Regions from separate parts of the Homo sapiens genome. Here regions 1 and 3 are each linked to region 2. Evidence: fine-mapped expression QTL. A gene starts in region 2. Each other region holds a variant in brackets. All regions are shown on one strand. Distances are from middle to middle. Region 1 overlaps UBP1 (upstream binding protein 1). Region 2 holds the start of UBP1 (upstream binding protein 1). Region 3 overlaps SUSD5 (sushi domain containing 5).

Region 1 (8,182 bases), 25 kb after region 2:
CTGCCTGCCCTGACCTCCCAAAGTGCTAGGATTACAGGTGTGAGCCACTCCACTTGGCCAACTCTTGATTTTTCTGCCTCAAGTCAGCTCCTGGCTGTCTTTGAGGTCAGGAAATGGTGACTCTTCTTCAATTCCTTGATCAAAAATCAGGAGTAATCCTCAACTCTTCTTTCTGTTACACTTTACATCTAATACAGCAGAAAACTGAGGGATTTATACTGTTCTGATAGGTGAAAAATGATTTCAGTGTGGTTTTAATTTGCATTTCTCTAATGGAAGTTGTCTTTCAATATGTTTAAGAACTGTTGGCATTTCCTTTTGTGAACCCACATGTCCATTTCATTTGCTCATTTTTTTCTTCTAGGGATACTGGACATTTGTTAGCAATTTTTTTTTTTTTTTTTTTTTTTTGGAGACAGAGTTTCGTTCTTGTTGCCTGGGCTGTAGTGCAGCGGTGCAATCTCAGCTTACTGCAACCTCCGCCTCCCAGGTTCAAGCGATTCTTCTGCCTCAGCTTCCCAAGTAGCTGGGATTACAGGCATGCACCACCACGCCCAGCTAATTTTTGTATTTTTAGTAGAGATGAGGTTTCTCCATGTTGGTCAGGCTGGTCTCGAACTCCCAACCTCAGGTGATCTGCCCGCCTCGGGCTCCCAAAGTGCTGGGATTACAAGCGTGAGCCACTGCGCGCAGCCTAATTAAATACTTCTTATGGCCGGGTGCGGTGGCTCACGCCTGTAATCCCAGCATTTTGGGAGGCTGAGGCGGGTGAATCACCCGAGGTCAGGAGTTCAAGACTTGCCTGGCCAACATGGCGAAACCCTGTCTCTACTAAAAAATAATACAAAAATTAGCTGGGCGTGGTGGCGGGCACCTGTAATCCCAGGTACTCAGGAGTCCAAGGCAGGGAGAATTGCTTGAACCTGGGAGGTGGAGGTTGCAGTGAGCCGAGATTGCGCCACTGCATTCCAGCCTGGGCGACAGAACGAAGCTCCCTGTCAAAATAAATAAATAAATAAAAATTAATGTTTCTTATTGATCTGATAATCAGCATAAACCTTTTGTTGATTTTTATTTCCTAAATTCTTGTGAGGTTGAGTGTAATTTTAAACATAAATGGTGTATTTTTCAAAACTTTATATTCTTCATTTTGAAAATTATTTCTGTTTTCAGAATATAGATCCATTGTTAAATATAGTGCATATATCTTCTTCCAATCTGTGTCTTAGTTTAACTTTTTAAAAATGTCTCTTCCCATACAGGTGTTTTTTAGTGTTTCTCTGTCTGTTGAATGAATGTAAGCAACTTTTCTTTGTAACAGACTATATATATGCTGTTTTCCTTCACCAGCCTTGGAGTGATGTAGTTGTATTTTGATAACCCCTTGTTGAATTTTGACCCTATAATCTAGAATCCTTTGTATATTTTTCTGTAAGCCCCCTGGGAGTATGGACAAGGTGTTGGTAGTTATAAAGATTCTCAACTTCATGTGATATTATAAGCATTCTTTAATTTTTACTGATTTTCTGCATGCCAAATTATACTGTCATTTTTATTATTTAATAACAGATAATCCAGAAATCATTTTTTGTGGATTTGGAGTACATTATTAATTTTTTTACAGCAGCATTTTCCTAATTATCTAGATTGATGTGTGAATATCTGTGTTTTCTAATAAACACTAAAAGTGGAAACAACCCAAATATCCATCAGCTGATGAATGGATAAACAAAATTTGGTTTAGTCTTTACACAGTGGAATAGTATTAGGCAATAAAAAGGAATGAATATTATTTGGCAATAAAAAGGACTGATATATACTACATATGGGTGAACCTTGAAAACATTATGCTAAGTTTAAAAAGCAAGGCACAAATACCCACATATTGTATGATTCTGTTTATGAAAGTATCCAGAGTGGGCAAATCGTAGAGGCAGAAAGTGGATTGGTGATCGCTAGCAGTTGGCCAGGTGGGGGGTGGGGGAGGGATGGGAAGTGACTAATAGAGGTTTCTTCTTAGGATGATGCGAGTGTTCTAAAACTGGTAGTGGTGATGGTTGCACAACTCTGACTATACTGAAAACCAATGATTTACACACTTTTTAAAAATGTGAATTTTATGGTATGTAAACTATATCTCAGAAAAGCTGTTACAAAAATTAGTCTTAGGTAATGCAAGCATAATAAAAGTTTAGTGTAAGAGAGTGGCAGATGAAGATAAATTGACAGAGAAACTCTTGTCTCCTGTAATAATGTTAGAACAGAAGGTTGGTGTGATTTTCAGGGAAGAGAAGGATCAACCTGAATTTGCTTCCGTAGCAAATTAACAAACTATCATTGTGTAATGTATGTTCTGAGAAACATGCATTTTGAATTATGTTAAGCAAAGTGATGTTCTTTATAAGGATTGTTTTTTATACACAATTTCTTTAAATAGGTCAGTCATATGAAATTCGGATGCTGGATAATCGGAAAATGGGTGATATGCCTGAGATCAATGGAAAATTAGTAAAGGTAAGGACAGTCCATTTTAATTCCCAATGGATATTGCTGTGATTGAATGAGTTTTTGTTTAAAAAAAAATTAATTTCACTTCAATAATTGTTGTATTACAACTTTTTAACTTTATGAGCTATATTTTGTTTATTCACCTGTAAAATGGGAATTATAGCAGTTATTGGGTAGAGTAATTTTGAAAGACCCTTGGAAATCAAGGAGCAATAGAAAAGTTAGTTGTAGTTATGGGGTAAAAAACTCATCACCACAACAAAAACCTATAAGCCTCTCTAAAAGTAAAAGATAATATGGGGAAGAATGTCAATGTTGGCATAAAACTTTAAAAAATCCTTTACCTTGTAAAGTTTCATTTAAAAAATAGAAATCTCTGTTCACCCTACTCATGTATCTGAATGAAGAAGTCAGTCATCCTAGGTATAGGAGGCATAGCTGTTTTCCAGCTAACCTGTTCTTTTAGGATGTATCCTCAGAACCATCCCTGCCCCCTGGCCCCTCCTAGCCTGTATCCATCATACATCATGGCTAGTTATAAATTCCATAGCATTACAGGGCAGGGTTAATGAAAGAATCTTAATTGGGGAAAGGTAAAACCTCATGTGGCTAACTAAGTGTTAGCAAGAGACAAGTTCTCTTGATCCTTCCATCTTCCCACAGAGTGGCATGTCAGGGCCCAGGTGCTGCTGGGCCCTCAGTGTGGAGGGGCATTCTATTGGAAAGACCTGCCCTCTGTGGATCTGCCTTTTTAGTGGGTAA[G/T]CATGGGAAGGGCAGCCTTGTGGTGGGAATTGGATTCAGGCAATCTAAATTTGGTGTGTTAACTAATTTGGCATGTATGGGAAAGCCAGCTGCCCAGTACCTGGAGGGCACCTGGAAGGTTACTTAGGGATCAAATGATGGGTTACCAAAGGTGCTTTGGAACTTCTTGAATGTGCAGAACATATTCAGCAATGTGCTTTCTCTGATTGTTCTGTTTTTGTCTTTCTTTGTTCTGTGTTTTTTTTTTTGTTAATGTATCAGTGTAAAAGGGTTGGAAAGTTGTTTTAATTGTGAACTCCATAATAAAATTTAGTAGGATTTGATGGGCCCTATACTGAGGTCTTTAAAACTGGATCCAAAAATGTTAGAACAATTTTTTTAACTTTTTATTATGGTAAAATTTGAACATACCCAGAAGTAAAGAGAATGGTACAATGAATCCACATATATCCATCATATGGTGGTATATAATAAATATATCTGGTATATATCATGAGTTCTCATAAGTTCTCATGCCAACTTCAACATTCTCCACAATTTGCCAGACTTGTTTCATCTATTCCCCTTGTGCTTTTTTTGTGTATGCCGGATTATAGAATTTACTAATTTGTAATTTTAACTCAGTTCTTCATTCATGACCATTCAGTGTTCTGAGGAAAATATAACAAACTTTGACATCCAGACCAAATGCCAAAATTCAGTGTCCATCAAGGCATTGAAGAAAATCAATTCTGAAGCAATTGTCTTTGTCATTTATCAGTGGAGACAAGCTGGCTTTCCAGGGCAGTTCCCTGAATAGGTGGTAGGATTTAGAAATAATTAGTCTGATAGGTGATACCTAATGTTTAAAATATTTTGGCAAGCTGGTTAAAATACCTGTCAGATTAACTTGGGATGGCAGGGTAAAGTTGTATGACTGCTTTAAGTTCAACTTCCTTGTATTTACTTCCAAATTAAAACATGTAAAAACATTTAATATACAAAATTAATGCAAGCAAATAAATTAAGGGAAAAATGACACCTCATTATGACGTAATGAACTACTGTTAGTAGCAAAACCATTAACTTATAAATGCACAGTGAATGTTTTGCTGACATAACACTAGTATATTCCACCTAGACAAGGTTACTTATTCTGAAGGCATCAGTATCTAAATATTTAGCCCACTGATTGAAAAGGGTTCATTTTTAAAGCATTTTACATTGGCTTCATCTTCTGTTTGATAAGCCAGCTGTGTGATTTTTGGTGGATGTGCCAGGCATGCAGTTATATTCTGTAAGCTTGTCTGGGATTAAGAGCTACTGTCTGCTACTACCAAAGACTGCAGGATGAGTTTCTTGGAAATTACATCCTTTTTTTAGCTAGAGAATCCCTAAAATATGCTTCAAATTTCTAGAGTTTTATTTCCTGGCCCTAGGATCTTTGACTATACTACTTAAATTTGTGGGGGAACCTTGGGGATCAAGTGATAGGTTTGCGAAGGTGCTTTGGAACTTCTTGAATGTGCTGAACATATTTAGCAATGTGCTTTCTCTGATTGTTCTGTTTTCGTCTTTTTTTGTCCTATTTTTTTCTTTTAGTCTTATTGTTAGGGCCCCATCACATGTTGCTAGTTCTGAAAATGCAGTCAATCTCCTTTTAGGGAGAACTTTCAGATAACGAGATTTTCTCCCTGTTTCATATAAGAAGTTCCTTTCCTCTCTCCCGCCCTCCTCCCTCTCTTTCTTTTTCTTTCCCTTCCTCCCTTCCTTTTCATTCCTTTCTTTTTTCCTTTCCGTTCTTTTTTGGGTAGGGGTTTCTGGTAGAAACTGGAAAACCTGCTAGACAAATTCTAAAAGCTATATAATGCTAGAATTTTTCTTATATATCTTGTAATTTCCTAACTTTGGTCCTCCTTTTATCTTTAGTATTTTAGTCCAACCTTCTAGAATGGGGCTTAGTAAAGCTCTGAAGTCTAATACCTGTATTCTAATACTGTTTTCATCTGAATATGTGTAGTTAGTATGGTTCTTACTGAGTATGGAACAATTAGAACTGTGATATTTTCTGTGCTGTACTTTTTTCTGGAGACGAGCTGGCTAGCAGATGTGAACCACTGGCATTGGTGTCTTAGGGGCCACCACTAGCCTATGCACCATCACTATGAGAGCTTTGCTCTGGTCAGGTGATGGTGTGAAGTGGGTGCTGGGTAATTGCTTGGACAGGCCCTGCAGGTGTGGGTGCAGGTAAGGAAGATGGGAATAAAGCAGCCACTGAGCCCTATAAATGTCTCCCACATGGTACTCTTTATCTCAAAGAAAAAAATTGCTTTTAATTGGCTGCTGGGATTACAGGCATGAGCCCCACCGCACCTGGCCTAAGTTCACTTTTTCAAGGCAGCGGGCAGTGTTTCGGATTTTTGTTTTATGCCAGTTCTTTTTTTTCAAAACTCAAAGTTTTTTTTTTTTTTTTTTTGTGATGGAGTCTCGCTCTGTCACCTAGGCTGGAGTGCAGTGGTGCGAACTTGGCTCACTGCAAGCTCTGCCTCCCGGGTTCACACCATTCTTCTGCCTCAGCCTCCCAAGTAGCTGGTACTACAGGCGCCCACCACCATGCCTGGCTAATTTTTTGTATTTTTTGTAGAGATGGGGTTTCACCGTGTTAGCCAGGATGGTCCCAATCTCCCTGACCTCGTGATCCTCCCACCTCAGCCTCCCAAAGTGCTGGGATTACAGGTGTGAGCCACCGCACCCAGCCAGAAGACTCAATTGTTAACTGTTATTTTAAATTAACAAAGTTTTACCATTGTTTCTGGGTTTCTCTGTCTCCATCTTTTCATTTTTAATAACTCCTGTGTGCATCTGGTATTTTCTTTATAGGAATGTAATTCTTGCTCATTAATTTTAGTGGGAAGAACCTTAATTTTGAATTGCAATAACAAATCATTTTATAAAATCAATACCTAAGTTACCATTTTATTTATAATTTTAGTTTTTGAGTTATAATTCTTTGCACCAAATAATTGTACCGTAATCCAGGTATCCAAGGGCAAAAGAGTTCACTTACAGAATGTTTAAAACAGAATCTAGTTGTATGTGTTCTACTGCTACAGGTTAACACATAAGAAGTAGAAATGGTCCTGCATTTTAGCTGGAGCAGTTTAAAAGTACTCATTTTCCGCACTTATTCCACAGAGCATCATAAGGGTTGTATTCCATGACAGACGGCTACAATACACAGAGCATCAGCAACTTGAAGGATGGAAGTGGAATCGCCCAGGAGACAGACTTCTTGATTTAGGTACAGGCAGTGATCAAAAGACCATGGAGATGAGGGTATTGTTTAGCTATAGCCAGTAATGTGTTGTGTTGGCATCATGAATTACTTGTGTGGGGAAAGTTTTGGTGTTTGTGGATTTTGTGTCTTTTTTTTTTTTTTTTGAGACAGAGCCTTGCTCTCTCGCCCAGGATAAGTGCAGTGGCACAGTCTTGGCTCACTGCAACCTCTACCTCCCGTCTTCAAGTGATTTTCCTGCCTTAGCCTCCCAAGTAGCTAGGATTGCAGGTGCGCGCCACCATGCCCCTCTAGGATCTTGTGTCTTGAGAGTTGTTTTCTATATATACATACGCACACACATACATATATATGTATGTATGTATATACATTATTTTCTTTTTATTTTTTTCCCATCCTCGTATTATAAAGAACCGAGAGAGTTGTTTTATAGTTAAAACGTCAAGTAGCTTTTTGGTGCTAAACTAATGTGAACCTGGAATTTTATGATTTTGAAACCGTTTAATTGTAAACCATCTATCTTTTTTTTTTTTTTTTTTTTGAGACGGAGTTTCGCTCTGTTGCCCAGGCTGGAGTGCAGTGGCGCGATCTTGGCTCACTGCAACCTCCGCCTCCTGGGTTCAAGTGATTCTTGTGCCTCAGCCTTTTGAGTAGCTGGGACTACAGGCACGCGCCACTGCGTCTGGCTAATTTTTGTATTTTTAGTAGAGACGGGGTTTCACCATGTTCGCCAGGCTGGTCTCAAACTCCTGACCTCGGGTTATCCACCTGCCTTGGCCTCCCAAAGTGCTGGGATTACGTGAGCCACCACGCTCAGCCTTATCATATTCTTAAAAAAAATGAAATACAAACCATGGTAGGGGAAACGATGATATTCGTTTAGGGTGGGTTTCGATGTTGAAGAAGTTGATCATGGAGACCATTGAAAGACAGAGTTCAAAGCAGTTACAGTTATTTCATTAGAACATAATATAGTAAGTTGTAAGTTTTTTAAGTTATTTAAAGTGGATGTTTTTATGTAACTTCTTTTTAAAACATAGATATTCCAATGTCTGTGGGAATAATTGACACAAGGACGAATCCAAGCCAGTTAAATGCGGTTGAATTTCTGTGGGACCCAGCAAAACGCACCTCTGCTTTCATTCAGGTTTGGATTTTTACATTATTAGAAGCTTACTAACCTAGTTATTTAGGTCATGGTAGGATTGAATTTTTGATACAGTATCATTTCCTTTAAATGTCTATTTATAAACTATGTTGTAGTGTCTTTCTATATACATAGTTAGGTTTAATCTAGTAAGTTCACCCTATTTTAAACTAACATATATGAAGACATTCTATGATATGTAAAGCATTATTCAAATGTTATTTTTACCACTAGTAGTCCCAATAATGAAAATGTCTATTTTTCATGAGATGTATTTCTCTTGAACACAAGCTGCTATTTAAAAGGATACGATTGAAAAAAGATTGAGGTTTTAAAATTCCTTCTAGCATTATTTTTAAAACATTCTAATACTGAAAAATTCAAACCTCTACAAATAGGATAATAATGATGACTAATTGTCCATGTAACCATCACCTGGCTTTAGCAGTTTTTAGTAGTTTCCGCCCCCTTTTAGTTATTCTTGGAGCACT
Region 2 (8,182 bases):
CTGACTCTACTGCAAAGGCCATGGCACAACAGACTTTAAGTTCTCTTGCTAAAGTTGTGCTAGATAACGGAATTGCTGTATATTACTTACTGAGATACAGAGAAGTATGTATCTCTGTATGCAGATACTTCTCTGTATCTGCATACAGAGAAGTATGTATCTCTGTATGCAGATACAGAGAAGTATCTGCAGTTGCTCACACTTCTTGTTGCACAGAGATGAACATATCAGGTATTATAGAGATTCAGTTACAGGGGATTAATAAACAAGCTGCTTGGTTAAAACAGCTTGATCTTTTATCTAGCTCTTTCTTTGATCTATTTGATTTTAGTTAGTTTAGTTCATGTTGACCCTGGCTAAGGGGCATACTCCAAAGTCTTGGTATTATCCTCTTGGTAATCTTAATAGTAGTCTCCTATGTGCACTAAGGACTTTCAAAAGTTTTAAATGTTTACATACAATCATCCATAAAATGTCCATAAAATTTAAATAAATAAAAATTCCAACATAATAAAAAAAAAGTATCCTCTACTCTAACGCTTACCAGAAAATAACCTAAAGTCCTTATTCGCACCTTACAAAACCCACTGTTGTACTATTTCCCAATGGGATTTGCGACCAGATAAGTACATTTACAATGGTCAGAAAGTAATGTCAATGTCTAGGATTTTGGTCAACCTCTCTATTTTGGTCAAGTTGAGAGGTTGAACAAAAGGGGAGAAATTGTTAAATTGAGTTTAGCCTAAAGTTGCCTCCTTATAAGTTCAGCCTAAAGGTTTCTCTGTACACAGTAAATTGTAACCTAACTGGATGTATAAATGGTCTATAACCTATTATAACAATCGCTGAGTTTTGGCTAATTACAGGAGGCCAACTGTTCAAATAATACACTCAACCAATCAAGCTGTTTTTATATCTCACTTCTGTTTTCCGTACATCACTGTCCTTTTTCTGTCCATAAATCTTCTTCCACCATGCAACAGTGTTGGAGTCTCTCTGAACATATTCTGGTTCGGGGTGGCTACCTGATTGACAAATCTTTTTTTTGCAAAATTAAACTCTTATATTTAATTTGTCTAAAGTTTTCTTTTAACACTATCCTTCTTTTATATTTTGGTCTCTTTATGACATTACTATTTAGCGCTGCTTGATACTTCTATTTTTTTTCCAGACAGGGTCTCATCTGTCACCCAGGCTAGAGTGGCATTATCATGGCTCACTGCAAGCCTTGACCTCCTGGTCTCAAGTGATCCTCCCACCTCAGCCTCTGGAGTAGCTGGGACCACAGGTGCAGGTCACCATGTCTGGCTAATTAAAAAAATTTTTTTGGCCAGGAGCGGTGGCTCATGCCTGTAATTCCAGCACTTTGGGAGGCTGAGGCAGGCAGATCACGAGGTCAGGAGATCGAGACCATCCTGGCTAACACAGTGAAACCCTGTCTCTATTAAAAATACAAAAAATTAGCCTGGTGTGGTGGCGGCCGTCTGTAGTCCCAGCTACTCGGGAGGCTGAGGCAGAAGAATGGTGCGAACCCCGGAGGCGCAGCTTGCAGTGAGCTGAGATCGCACCACTGCACTCCAGCCTGGGCAACAAAGCAAGACTCTGTCTCAAAAAAAATTTTTCTTTTGTAGAGGCAGGGGTCTCGCTCTGTTGCCCATGCTGGTCTCAAATTCCTAGCCTCAAGAGATCCTCCCCTCTTGGTCTCCCAAAATGTTGGGATTACAGTTGTGAGCAACCATGACCAGCCAACACTTTTATTTCTATCCTCCAGAACTCTAATTTTTTTTTTGTTTTTTGTTTTTCGTTGTTGTTGTTTGTTTTTCTAAGGACAGGGTCTCATCTTGTCATCCGGGCTAGGGTGCAGTGGCACAATCATAGCTTACTGTAGCCTCAAACTCCCAGGCTCAAGTGATCCTCCTGCCTCAGTCTCTCTCAAGTAGCTAGGACTACAGGAGCGTGCCATCATGCTCAACTAATTTTTTTTTTCTTGTAGAAGCGGGATCTTGCCATGTTGCCCAGGCTAGTCTCCCAATTGCTGGCCTTAAGCCATCCTCCCAAGCTTTAAGTCTTGGTCTCCCAAAGCGCTGGGATCATAGGCCTGAGACACTGCCCAGCCTGAGGCTCAATTTCTAAATATTTGACCCAGTACTTCCTTAGGGCACAGCCTGATTGAAAAATTGATGGTAGCTTGTACTTTTACACTCTCTCCAAAAACCAGAGAATTATCTTCCCCCAATTCCATTTCTCCAAATTTTCCAACAACTAATAGTAGGCCTGGCTAATCTGGTTATAGACTAGGTTATGCAAGTGAGGTGAGATCATGGAATGAAGACATATCTGAGACCCCCAATGAGACCAATGTTTCCCTTGACTATCCAATTGTTTGTGCAGATTTATTTGTAATAGTGGAATGGAGCTTCCTGAACTGATGGCCAATCTAATGTTTTCGCCTGGAATCAGAGAAATCTGGATTAGTCAAATAGCCCCGGTTTACCTGCTTACTGTGTGACCTTGCACTGTGTAATCTTTACACATTTTCACCTGAATTACCTCATCTCTAAAGTATGGCTTTATCAAATGAAATGTTTGCAAAAATGTTGTGTAAAGAGAAAAACATTCTCCAAGTTAATTTGTGGTTTTTTTTTTTGGAGACCGAGTGTTGCTCTGTCTTCTCCCGGGTTCAAGCCTTACTCCCGCCTCAGCCTCCTGAGTAGCTGGGATTACATGGGCGCGCCACCACATCCAGCTAATTTTTGTTATTTTTGGTAGAGACGGGGTTTCACCATGTTGGCCGGGATGGTCTCCTGACCTCAACTAATTCACCCGCCTCGGCCTCCCGAAGTGCTGGGATTACAGGCGTGAGCCTGTAAGTTAGTATCTAAATCACACAGGCGTTGAGACTATTTTTTTCTGGCTCAGTGCCACTGCTTTATTAGGCTGACATTTTAATCTATGTATTTTTGCACTTAAACTGGCAAGTTGGGGCGGGGCGCTCAGCATTTGGGTCTTATTCTTAGGCAGTAAGTTCGATGCAGGGCGAAGCCCGGGCCTTGACGTTCTCTTCAGCAAGGATTCCGCCCGTCAAGCGCCAGCAGCCGCTCCTAAGGAACTCTGATCCGCACACTGGCTCTGTAAGTCAGCCTCTGGCTCCTGCTTTCTATTTCATCTCTTCCGGTAAAAAGATTTCTGTCTTTTGGCCGCAGTGGCGCGTGCCCACGCTAGGTCGCTGAGGAAGACCCTTCGGGCCTTCTGAGCAGCGTAGCTGTTACTGTGGCACGTCCTAATGGTTCGGTCCAACTTCAGGAGACCGCCTGCCCTTAGGATGACCAACAGCTAGTTCAACTCAGGATAGCCAAGCTGCTCTCGGCAATGCAACCAATAGGGGAAGTCTTTCCAGAGCTCTTTCTCAGGAGCGTTGATTGGCTTATTCTCACGCCAATCAAGGTTTTCTGCACAACTGGCTTTTCTGTCACCAGATGGGGTGCAAACCGCTCACTCCCTCGGTAGAGAGGGCATAAAGCAGAGACGACCGGGAAATACCACAGAGGAGCAAATCACCTCCGGAAGTGGCGTTTTGGGTCGCTTTCTACCATGCAGTCCAATGAACTCTTTCTTTTGGCAACAAATTCCGTCTTCGAGCCCGCCCAAGGTGAAGAACATTTTGATTGGTTGTTTAGTCGGGGGACACAGAGACTCACGGGAGCTTCGTCCAAGCCCTTGCAGGTATTGCTCAGTTGGCCTGTCAATCATCTCGCTCGCTAGAAGGGGCGGAAACTGGCAGCCCTTTTGGCACCGCCTCTTCCTGGGCTGCTGTGCGGGGACGCAGCGAGGCCACCCCGGCTGGGAACAGCCGCGTGGGCGGGGCCGCATTGCACTCTCTGGACAGTTCCTGGGCCGCGAGGCGCGGGGAGTGGCCCTAAGCGCGGGGCTGTACGGGGAGGGCCGAGGCGTGGGGCGAACGCCGGGGCGGGGTCGGGGCGGGGCCGGGGGAGGCGGAAGCGGCGCGTGAACCTAAGTCGGAGTCGCGTTGAAGCCAGCGTCCGGCCGGCAGAGCGGCGTCGGCGGGGTTGGCCGGGGCGGTGTGGCGCTAGAGCCTGGGCGGGCCGGGGGCAAGGAGTCAAGGCTTGGGGGCGGGTGACGGGCGGGCGGAGGGCTTGCCCCCGTGTGGTCCTCGGAGCGGCCCGAGGTCCAGCCTCCCAGCGGTCCCGGAGGAGGATGCGACCGGGGGGCCCCGGGCGGGGCGGTCGGCGGCGGCTGCAGCGCTAGCGGCGCGGGGGCTGGGCGGCGGCGCCGGCATGAGGCGCAGGGCCGGTGTCCGCGGGAGGGTGGCGCTGCCGGCGGCCCGGCCGCTCCCGCTGCAATTGCTCGCTGGGCTCGTCGTGCCCTGCCAGTGGGGCCCCCGCAGCTCTCGTCCCGGCCGCCGCTGGTGACCACTCGCCGCCCCTCCGGAGGCTTCACCCGCGCCCTCCCCCAGGACGCGCCAGCGGAGCTCCGGCTCCTTCGCCCTGGACGCGGAGGCCGCGGTGTGCGGGGCGACGGCGAGGCCGGAAGATGGCCTGGGTGCTCAAGATGGACGAGGTGATCGAGTCCGGGCTGGTGCACGACTTCGACGCCAGCCTCTCGGGCATCGGGCAGGAACTGGGCGCCGGCGCTTACAGCATGAGGTACTGGGCTCCCTGGGCGGGGAGAAGCCTCTGTCTCCTTGGGGAAGGCCTGCGCAGCCCTGAGTCTCTGCCAGATGCGGCTGCTCCCAGAGGTGCGCGGGCCTCCTGGGCTGCGGGGTCGGAGTCCTGCCGCGTGGCGGTCGGGGGCCATGGAACCCCAAAGGCCTCTGCTCGCCCTGGTGACGGGCGGGTGGGGGAGGATGGCCCCGCAAGCGTCGGCCTCGGACCGCTCCTGAGTGCTTCATATTTGCTGTAAAACACGCCCAGCTATTAGGATGGCTTGGGTTGGTGGGGGAAGGGGCTTCTTTTCCTTATAAGTGATTTACAAGTCCCATTGGAGCTAGAATACACTGTACGAAAAGGCAGCACTTATATTGGGAGAATACTGTCTAGCGTTTTGGGATCAGTTCCTACTTTGTTGTCCTACATTATGATCTTTTCTGGCTGCAGATTTTAATCACTTGATGTTAGTAAATTATAATTGAAAGAGCAGCGGTGGGAGTAGCACTGTGACTTCGTTTTGTTCTTTTGATTGTCTCAAAGTGAAGTTTCTCATTTTGGAGACTACCCTCTCAGGCTGTTTCCTCTTGAGGGTTTTAAGATGCAGTGATTGCACCACAAATAATTGTTTAGTCTCTGCTGTCTGTACCAGCAGTCATTCATTTTAATATGGAGAGATTGAAACAGATCTGAGCTTAGTCTCCGCCCTTTATCCTTTTTAACTGTTAGGAATTTGGAAACTCTGTATTTTTTTAGTGGCTTTATTGAAATATAGTTTACCATAGCGTTGACTTGACTAATAAAGTCTAAAAATCAGTGGTTTGGCAGCTTTTCAATAATGTGAATTAAGTGTAGCTTTCTGTTCTTTAGAAAATGTCTGATGTTTTGGAAGTGCTCTACAGTTTCCCAGTAGCATTCATACATCTTACTGCAGCTCTAGAGGAGGACTTCTGGGTTAAAGCTGGCCTGGAATCTTGGTGGCTGCTCCTTGAAGTAATTGGGTCTTTAAATCTTAAGGAGAAATTCTGAGCCATAAAGAACTCTCAGAAAGGTTGGAGACATTTCTTGGAGTGTGGAAGTGAGTAGTGGAAGGCATATTAAACCTGGAGTTCCCCAGCGTCTGGCTCTGATTTGGTCTCTGTTGGGCTTCCTGAACTTGGCACCTCTTCTCTCTGCAGTTGTATAACTTAAGGCCTGTAGATGAGTTGGCTTATTTTCTAAAACAGCTGTTTCAGTTGTTGAGGAAATTGAGCTACTGAAAGTCATGGAGTCACCCCAGAGGGGAGTATTAGAGGCAGTGCTTCTCTAGTGAAAACGCACTCCTCTAGTGCCATTCTGCTCCTTAGCTCTCTACTGGAAACACGAGGCTTATAGTCAAGGCAAAGGAGGCACGTGAAGCAAGTTCAATATGTGTCTCTCCTCAGTTGCTTCTCTTTTATGGTAAAATGAAAGTTTGCTGCTGAAAAGTTTACTTATTGATAGCTATTTTGAGCTTTTACTTTTTTCTAGGGTTTTATTTGACCTGTACTTTGATTTAGTGATTCAGCCAACTTATTAATGTAATAACTTCTGTGTATGGTTTATTTCCATGAAAAGGAAGTACAATCTTGATGATTTTAAACCTTTCCCTGACCATGTATTTTTAAAGTAATGTGTGAGATCTTTGTAATTCTGTGTAACCTACAGTACTCTTTACAGGGATAATTTTCCCTTGAATTCTTTTTTGGTTGTGTCATTTAATCTAAATTTTCAAAGAAGTTTGAAGGTAATTACCATTTTTAAGAAGGTTTTTTTTTCGTATTTAATTGAGTCCTCAAAAACTAAGAGATGAGAGTGCTTGCCTCTTGCAAATTCAAGGCCCTTTGTTTGAAATTCTCAAACTAAGGAAATTCCAAAATTGACTCGATAAGGAGAAAATCTGAAGAAGGCGTTAGCTGCTGCAGGCCTCCCTGGACTGCAGTTGTACTTTCCATGCCTGGCCCTGGAGCCCTGAGAGGGTTGGAGTGCCTATGAATGGCCAGCTTGAGCATTCAGTCACTTCCTCTGGCATCCAGTGGGAAGGAAAGCTTATCTTTCAAAGTTCAAGAAGTAAACTTGAAGAAATTACTGGAAAAATGACTTCTTGATACAAATTGATTTTGTAGGCAGCTTTCTATTTTTCTTTCAAAATGAAACATGCTTACTGTATTTGCTTTTTGGATGGCTTAAAACAAGAGGTATTTCTTAAAAGACTTCTCTTAGGGAATGGTTTCCTCATCTTTTGGGAGGATAGTTTGAAAGGAAGAAATGGCTTCTGTCAGTGGTCTGACTTAAAATTAGGCAGGTGTGATGTTTGGTATGCTTGTAGACCTAGCTACGTGGGAGATTGCTTGAGCCCAGAGGTTCAGGGGTGTAGTGTGTGCTATGATTGCACCTGTTAATAGCCACTGCATTCCAGCCTGGGCAAGAATGAGACCCCCTTCTCTTTTGTTGTTTCCCCCCACCCCTTTCTCTTAAAACAGTAGGAAAAATATGTTTGTGTAAAATAATGTAGGCTGGTAATATTGGGAATATATTGGGGCTAATTACTAACATTACCTTTGCTTCTCTTTTTCTTTTGGCTCTGGTTCTCATGTGTTCTGTGTGTGCTGTTGTATTATACTTTTTTGTTGTTGTTTTTGTTTAGTCTTTTTTGGTGGTTATATTTGGATGTGAGATGTGAACTGCAGCAGATTCTATTTGAAATGAGGCAGGTCATAAATGTTTTTAAAAATCTTGGTTACAGTAACAGGATTTTAGAGATGGATAGAGACCTTCCTTAGAAACCTTTTAGAGTCTAGACCACTCCTTTTCTTATACTGTAAATGCATTATCTGAGGGTCATAGATGTTAAAGTGATTGGCTTAAACAGATGAAGGCTGATTTTTCCCCCACACAGAGTGAAGACTGAAACTCATGGTAACTTGAAATCTGGGTCATTCTCGTTTTGTGAAGTATGGAGTAGATAACCAAATGACTTTAAAAAATAATACTCATTAAAACTCAAAGAGGGTCTTTGGACCACCTGGTAATTTTCTTTCCATCTCACTGTATGAAATTTATCATCTGTAGCCAAGTTAATTTTTAGGATTTGGGGGCTCAATATTGAAATATTTTTGAAGGTTATAGGAAGTAATGGCTTGTATAGCTTACTCTTTTAAAAATTTTGATATTAAATTATTACTTTAAAAAAGGTATTGTCTGAGCCCTGTTTGTTAAACTTCGCTGTGGTATAAATCTCTTGAAACAAAAGATATACATTATGTATTTTGAAATGGGAGGTACATCCATAGTTTACAAATAATTTGCTAAATCAAAACTGCTTTGAGCTAATGACAGATTTCCTATGTTGATTGAAAGGTAAAATGTTTATTTAAGAAATCTATTGTACAACAAGGTTACTGTAGTTAATGATACAATGTATTCTTGAAAAATGCAAAGGGTGGATGTTAATGTTCTCACCACAGTGATAACTGAGGTAATACGTTTGTTAATTGGTT
Region 3 (8,182 bases), 290 kb after region 2:
TAGGATGCAAGACCATGAGATTCTGTCCCATATGCTCCAACGGGGGAGGGAGTATTTATCCTGTTCACCAGTGATCCCAAACTCTAGCACATAGTCAGCACTCAGTGAGGTCTGTTGAATGAAGGAGTGGGTCAGTGCAGGTTTTGAAATGAGGATATAACAGGGAATGTGAAGGGCCTGACTGAGCCCTGGGAGCCTGTATGTGAATTCTACAAGGCTCATTAGAATGGTCCAGCCATCTGATATGTTTTTTGTGTGAGGTTTTATGAACAGGACACAATGGGGTGTGATTGGGCTGTCCTTTTCTAAGCATAAAACACGCATGCATTTGATATTTGTCAGTGATGTTTGCTCTTCATCCACTGTTTCCCTTTTCTGACTGAGGACACATGTAAAGTGAATGGGCTTACATGTCAGGAGCAGATCAGAAAAGATTGTTAACTTTTATTTATAACTCTGTCAGTCATTAAATAAGCAAGATACAGAGTCTTATTCTCTAACAGCCTTTAGAAATAAGCCAGATACCCACTAATCTAGTTTCAGAGCCCAGGAATGCACCACATGACACCTCAGCATTCCATCTAGACCTTGGCTCTGGAGCTCTGTGCATTTTGTTCTTCCGAAGTTGAAAGTTAAGTGGGAGAAGCAGTCTGTTTTAATAATTTAAGTGTATCTTCCAGTAGGACTTGGCTTTCAAAGACCATTGAGAGAGGGGAAGGTCAAAGGGCTGCTGCTGTCTTCTGAGGACACCAGCTTCTTGAGCTTTCCTGACCAGTTGATTCCCCTCTCATCGGGCTGTCCTTACATTCTGGTCTCCTAGTTGTGGGGCTCTATTGCTTCTTATTCAGTTGAATTCAGAATACTTTACAGCATCATCTCATGACTTGGAAGTTTTACAGAGAGCAAATCAGTGTTTTAAAAGATGCATTTGGGGGCCGGGCGCGGTGACTCATGCCTGTAATCCCAGCACTTTGGGAGGCCGAGATGGGCGGATCACAAGGTCAGGAATTTGACACCAGCCTGGCCAACATGGTGAAACCCTGTCTCTACTGAAAATACCAAAATTAGCTGGGTGTGGTGGTGTGCACCTGTAATCCTAGCTACTCAGGAGGCCGAGGCAGGAGAATCGCTTGAACCCGGGAGGCGGAGGTTGCAGTGAGCCTAGATTGCACCATTGCACTCTAGCCTAGGAGACAGAGCGAGACTCTCTCTCAAAAAAAAAAAAAGATGCATTTTTGAACTTAATTATAAAATACATACGAATCATAAGGCAACAAACCAATGAATTATCAAGAATAAACACTGATATTTAGGCCTTGACACAGGTGAAGAAATCGAATATTGCCAGCACCCTAAAAGTCCTGTTTGTACCATACCCAGTCATCACCCCTTCTCTCCTACCCAAGTGTAACTACCATCCTGAGTTCCGACATCCATAGATTAATTCTGCCTGTTTTTAAACTTTATATAAATAGAATCAACACAGAGTGTGCACTTTTGTGCCTGGCTCAACATTATGGCCATGCAATTCATCTATTTTGTTGTGGGAAGCAGTGGTTGGTTCATGTTTATTGATGTACAGATTTGCATTGAGTATACCATAACTGATGTACCAGTTAATGGACATTTGAATTGCTTCCAGTTTTTTACTATTATGAACATTCTTAGGCGTGTCTTTTGGTACCCATATGCACACATTACTGTTAAGTGTATATATTTAGGAGTGGAATTGCTGTGTCATGGAGCATCCATATGTTCAATTTTAGTAGAGATGCCCAGTTTTCCATCGTGGTTGTTCCAGTTCACACTCCCACTAACAGTGCTGTATATCCTAGTTAACATTTGATATTGTCGGTCTGTTTAATTTTAGCCATTCTGGTGCTATGCAGTGGTATCTCATTATGACTATAATTAACATTTCTCTCTTACTAGTGAGGTTGAGCATCTTTCCACATGTTTAATGACTAATCTGATATCTTTCTGGTGATGTCCCAAGTCAACTATCTTGCCAATTTTTCTATGGTTTGTCTGTCTACTTAGTATAGATTTGTGGGAGTCCTTTTTAAATTCTGGATACAAGCCCTTTGGAGGTCATATGTGTTGCAGATAGCTTCTCTAACTCTGCCTTGCATTTTAACTCTCTTTGTGGTAGCTTTTAATGAACAGAGGATCTTCATTTTAATGTAATCCAGTTATCTGTCCTTGTGCCAATACCACAGCCTTAAAAGGTAATGCAGTTTTATAGTAAATCTTGAAATGTTTTGCATATGTCTTCCGGCTTTTTCTTTTTCAATATCGCCTTGTCTATTCTTACATTGCATTTCCATAAACTTCCATCCATTGCATTTCCATAAACTTTAACATTCAGTTAATGTCTGAGATTTTTATTGGAATTGTATTAGATCTGTATAGATCGATTTGGACAGAATTGCCAACTTAATGATCTTGAGCCTTCTACTACATGATCATGGTCTATTCCTCCATTCATTTAAGTCTTCTTTAATTTTGCTTAGCAATGTCTTATATCATTCCATGTAGAAGTCTTGAACATCTTTTGTTAGATTTATTCCTATGTGTTTGGTTTTTTTAATGTTATTGTAAATAGCATCCTTTTAAATTTTAATTTTCTGTTTATTGACAATATTTAGAAATACAATTGATGTTTATATTTACTGTAGACCTAGTATCCCTAATAAACTCACATGTTTTTTGTTGTTGTTGTTTTTGAGTTGTTGTTTTTGTTGTTGTTGTTTTTGAGTCTCACTCTGTCACCCAGGCTGGAGTGCAGTGGTACGATGTTGGCTCACTGCAACGTCCGCCTTCCGGGTTCAAGCGATTCTCATGTCTCATCCTCCTGAGTAGCTGGGATTACAGGCATATGCCACCATGCCTGGCTATTTTTTTGTATTTTATTAGAGATGGGCATTCGCCATGTTGGCCAGGCTGGTCTCGAACTCCTGGCTTCAAGTGATCCACCTGCCTAGGCCTCCCAAAGTGCTGGGATTACAAGTGTGAGCCACCATGCCCGGCCTAAGCTCAGATGTTAAATTTTAGTTACTTGTAATATTCATATGTAGATTATTTGGGTTTATCTATGATACACAGTCATATCATCTGTGAATAATAACAGTATTATTTATTCTGTCCCAGCCTTTATGCTTTTAATTTCCTTTTCTTATGTTCTATACTGGCTCTGTGCCTTTGGAGCTAATGAGGTTTTTTCCCTCTTTTCTTCCAGATGAGGCTGAGGCACACATTGACTATGAAGATAACTTCCCTGATGACAGATCTGTGTCATTCAGAGAGCTCATGGAGGATTCCCGGACAGAGGCAGATGAGGACAGGGGTCAGGGAGACTCCTCTGAGGAGGCTCCAAAACAGGACCGTCTGGTCTCCATTTCTGTGGGGAGAGAAAACATAGCCCGGGATAAAGTCTTTGTGCCAACCACAGGCTTGCCTGGTGCTGGGAGCAGTGTCCCCGCAGATTCACCAGGATCACGGCTGCTCCAGAAGCACTTGTTCTGGTTTCCTGCTGAGGCTTTCCACAAGCCTGGGTTGGAAAAGGAGGTGGATGATGACACCAAAAAGCAGTTTTCTGCTGGAGACAACCACAGTGGTGTAAAATTGGTCCCAGGTGAACCTGAAACCAAGGTGATCTACGGCAACACTGATGGTCCCTCGGGGCCATTTGTGGGCAAGAATGACAGCAAGGCAGGAGATCCAGTGGTGAGCAGCAGTGATGAGTCCTGGTTAGATGGCTACCCTGTGACAGAGGGGGCTTGGAGGAAGACAGAGGCAGAAGAGGAAGAAGATGGGGACAGAGGGGATGGGTCAGTAGGGCTGGATGAAAACGTCCTAGTTACTCCTGATCAGCCCATTCTTGTGGAAGTTAAGAAGCCCAAGAGTAGCACCCTCACACCAAGCGAGGGCATGACCCATAGTTCAGTTCTTCCATCTCAAATGCTAGATGTGGAAGCTTTGGCGCTCAGACCCGTGAATGCTTCCGAGACTGAGGGCATTGGGGATGGTGACTTGACGAAGTACCAGTCAACTCTACCCTGGAGATTCATCACAGAGGAATCTCCCATGGCCACCCTGTCCTATGAGCTCACCAGCTCCACCCTGGAGATATTAACAGTGAACACTGTCAAGCAGACACCTAACCACATCCCCTCAACGATCATGGCAACCACCCAGCCTCCAGTAGAAACCACTGTTCCTGAGATCCAGGATAGCTTCCCATACCTGCTGTCTGAAGACTTCTTTGGACAGGAAGGCCCCGGGCCAGGTGCAAGTGAGGAGCTTCATCCCACCTTGGAGTCGTGTGTGGGGGACGGATGTCCTGGCCTCAGCAGAGGCCCTGTGATCGCCACCATTGTCACCGTCCTGTGCCTACTGCTGCTCCTGGCAGGTGTGGGGATGGTGTGGGGCTACCGCAAGTGCCAGCACAAGAGCTCTGTGTACAAGCTGAATGTTGGCCAGCGGCAGGCTCGGCACTACCACCAGCAGATCGAGATGGAGAAGGTCTAGGCACCTTTGGAGTGGGTTCTCCCAAAGCCACTTGGGAGGAAAATAACTGTGACACATCACACGATAATTCACTAGAGCATGACGCAGGTGGACTG[A/G]GGCTCATCATTTTTTCCTCAGCCCTTTGTTTTATAGGCTGAGAAGTGTCTCTGGAGCACCTGGGAGGGCAGGGAGGCTTTGGTGACATCATCACTCATGTCAATGTCTCCTCCACCATCTGCCCTGGAATTGACTACACTAATCCCAGACCTGTGCTTGGGCCCTGTTTCCAGTGTGAGGTCAAAAATCGCCTCTTCCTTCATCACAGTATTATCTTTTTTTTTTTGAGACAGAGTCTCATGCTGTTGCCCAGGCTGGAGTGCAGTGTCCCGATCTGAGCTCACTGCAACCTCTGCCTCCCAAGTTCAAGCAATTCTCCTGCCTCAGCCTCCCAAGTAGGTGGGATTACAGGCATGCACCACCATGCCCAGCTAATTTTTTTATATTTTTAGTAGAGATGGAGTTTCACCATGTTGGCCAGGCTGGTCAAGAACTCCTGACCTCAAGTGATCTGCCCTCCTTAGCCTCCCAAAGTGCTAGGATTCCAGGTGTGAGCCACATCACAGTATTACCTTTTTGAAGAAAGAAAATCACCAGCTTCATGCCCTGAAATTTTATAAATAGTCATGATAAACCAAGTGTATGAGAGCAGTATTATCTAGGACATGGATATTGAATTATTGGGAGAGGAATATGGAAGAATAATGGGTTGTTTCCTTTTAATGTTGTGATGTTGCTGAGGGCAGATGAACCAAGAGCCAGGACACAGTCTAGAAGCTTTGAGGTTTCTTTTTTCATTGTTTCTTGAAATTAGAATTTAAGACTGACATTTTGTTGGGGGAGTTGAGGAGTGAAGAAACACACATCCCCCTCTGTTCCCTCCATTCTGTGGGACAGTCTGTCATTTATTTTATTTTATTTTCAATATTTCATGGTTAAGGATTTGCCATTATTTTTTAAAAACAAAGTTAGCTTTGTACCAGTAAGTACCATTTCCTCTCAGAAGCAGTGGCCTAGTTGTCCTTGACCAGTCTGTGCCTAGGAATGTCTTGGAATTTTTGCCAGGACTAACAAAACTCAGTCCTTGGTTTCCTCTCTCAGGATTAACCATTTCTCTGAACTCCAGTAAGAGAGAATGACACGGGAGAAAAAAAAAAGAAATGTTTTCAGAGGGCCGAACACCAGGTTATCAAGTATGGGCACATACTTGATGGAGAAGCAGAAGAATCTGTGAAAGAATATGAAATGATCTGTGCTGATCTGTTCTCTAGTGTGGAAACTGGGAGCTCTGTGGAAACAGAATCCATCCTGTCTGTTGGGTAACCCATTTCGTAGCATCTAAATCATCTTAGGGTGGCTCAGCGAGGATGGTTTATGGCAGTGGTTCTCAAAGTGTGGTCCTCAGACCAGTAGCATCAGCGTCACCTGGGAATTTGTTGGAGATGCAAATTCTCTAGTCCCACCCTGGACTCAGGAAACAGGAACCCTGGGAGTAGGGCCCAGTTCTGTTTTTAACAAGCCCTCCAGGTGATTTTGATATGCACTCAAGTTTGAGAGCCTGTTGGTTTATAATAATCTCAAATGTGAACTTCGAGGCCAGCTGAAGCCCTAAAGGCACAGATGAGTATGTGGTGTGTGTTGTGTGGAAGTCAGGCATGGCTGTGTGCAGCTGAGGTGGCATTTGAAGCTGCCTAAATGCCACCTGCAATAGTCTCCTGTATGTTGGCACAGAAATGAAACATGTTATATTTTTCTAATATGAATCACCTTCTTAGAAATAGTTATCAGTGGTAAAAAGTGATGAATGCAACACATTTATTTTGAGACACCATAGCAGTCTAAGTGTTTTTGTGTGGTAGAGGGAAATCCTGATCTTTTTTATGATTGAAAAATTGTTGGTGGTGTTTTACCTAAGGAAAAAAAACATTCGCAACATGTTTTCTACCCTGCCACCTCTTTTCAGCAAGCTTTGGAAAAGTAATAGGCGAAGTAGCTGTAAAGAGAGGCAGCATAATCAAAGATCTTATTCCCCATAGTTGGGTAAAATAAAGCCTGAAGGTACCAACTAGAATACCTGTGCATCAGACGAAGTCAAGAACAATAGGAATAAAATGCTTTCTGCATGTAGCCAAAGCAAAACATAATAGAATAAAAGCCAGAGACTGTATATATTTATAAATTAGATCCTAATCTACTGCAAGATAACTTTTCTATTTTTAACTATATAAAATAACCTCTGTCTCAGCATTGGGACTGTGTTAGCAACTATTATTGTGGAATAACCCAGAACATTGGATTTATACCAACAAATAGGCAATATTAATACAGTGTATTAATAAATTTATTACAAATTATTAATACAGTGTATTAATAAATTTATTACAAATTATTAATACAGGTAAATGTTTTATTTGTAGACATGGACTGTGAAATAAACCCAACACATCAGTTTTTAAGTTCTTATTGGTGTGGTATCCTCTAAATTAATGTTATAGAATCTAAAAATTCATGTTGAAAGGGAATGATTAAAACAATGTAAATCTAAATTGTATGTCATGCATGTTTTGAGAATGGTGAATGTTTAATGCTCATGAAAATTGGGGGAGGGGGTTCTATTAACACAAAGCTTCTGAGATATTTAAAATAAATAATTATTGCCCCAACAGTTGCTGAATGTATTTTATTTCTAGGCTACTGCACCAAGGTTTAAAAAAAGAAAAAAATTCTCGCTGGGCACAGTGGCTCACACTGGTAATCCCAGCACTTTGGGAGGCTGAGGTAGGCAGATCACTTGAGGTCATGAGTTCGAGACCAGCCTGGCCAACATGGTGAAATCTTTTCTGTACTAAAAATACAAAAATTAGCCGGGCGTGATAGCATGCTTGTGGTACCAGCTACCCAGGAGGATCAGGCAGGAGAATTGCTTGAACCCGGGAGGCAGAGGTTGCAGTGAGCTGAGATCATGCCACTGCACTCCAGCGTGGGGGACAGAGCAAGGCTCCATTCAAAAAAAAAATCTCTAGTAATCTTGAAAATAATGTCTTAATACTTGCTATATCTAAGATCTAAGACTGCCCTTTCTAAACCTAACTCTCAGTTATGTTACCTCCTGCAGCAGGATTTTAGGGAAGTTGGTGGCACTCTTGCCCCCCCCTCCCTCCCTACTTCCCTCTTCCTTGCCCCGCCCCCCCCTACTTCCCTCTTCCTTGCCCCAACCAGAGACCACTTACTTCACTGCAACGAAACACCCGGGACCTCGCTATTCAAAGTGTGGCTCCTGCCCCAGCAGCACAGGCACTGCGAGCTTGTTAGAAGTACAGAATCTCAGGCCCTGCCCCAGGACTGCTGAATCAGGATCTGCATCTAACAGGATGCCCAGGTGGTGGGCATGAATGGTAAAGCTTGAGAAGCACTGGCCTAAGAGAGAACTGATTATCCCCTTTCTCCTAACTCACAGGACACTCAAAGGAGTAATTAGAGGGTTAGCTGAAGGGACTGTTCACAAAGGTGTGGGGAAAGTTAGGGGAACCATCAGGGGATGGTGGGGACCTGTTATGGAACCCAACAAGAGCTCAGTAATAGGAAAGGCCCTGCAGGACAAGGGCTCTGGCCTCAA

Evidence for each region. PIP is the estimated chance that this variant, and not a neighbour inherited with it, causes the effect.
Region 1: its variant is fine-mapped to the expression of UBP1 in whole blood (INTERVAL, PIP above 0.99).
Region 3: its variant is fine-mapped to the expression of UBP1 in whole blood (TOPMed, PIP above 0.99).

Annotation. Positions count from the first base shown.
Region 1 is chr3:33,411,090-33,419,271 of GRCh38, reverse strand. UBP1 (upstream binding protein 1) reads left to right here. Exons shown (of 16, transcript NM_014517.5): 3 at 2,438-2,514; 4 at 6,445-6,550; 5 at 7,585-7,691. It also overlaps a transcript of FBXL2 not described here and the pseudogene RNU7-110P. Among named protein-coding and RNA genes, the nearest start is that of UBP1, 25 kb to the left of the region's middle. The variant G/T (reference allele first, on the strand shown) is at 3,271.
Region 2 is chr3:33,436,218-33,444,399 of GRCh38, reverse strand. It overlaps UBP1 (upstream binding protein 1), which reads left to right and starts at 3,995. Exons shown (of 16, transcript NM_014517.5): 1 at 3,995-4,664. The coding sequence starts at 4,552. RefSeq lists enhancers at 3,017-3,306, 3,517-3,706, 4,038-4,537 and silencers at 3,857-4,016, 4,077-4,186, 4,237-4,556, 4,787-4,836, 4,756-4,990 and 1 more.
Region 3 is chr3:33,149,090-33,157,271 of GRCh38, reverse strand. SUSD5 (sushi domain containing 5) reads left to right here. Exons shown (of 5, transcript NM_015551.2): 5 at 3,239-7,229. The coding sequence ends at 4,530. Among named protein-coding and RNA genes, the nearest start is that of CRTAP, 39 kb to the right of the region's middle. RefSeq lists an enhancer at 3,258-4,457. The variant A/G (reference allele first, on the strand shown) is at 4,626.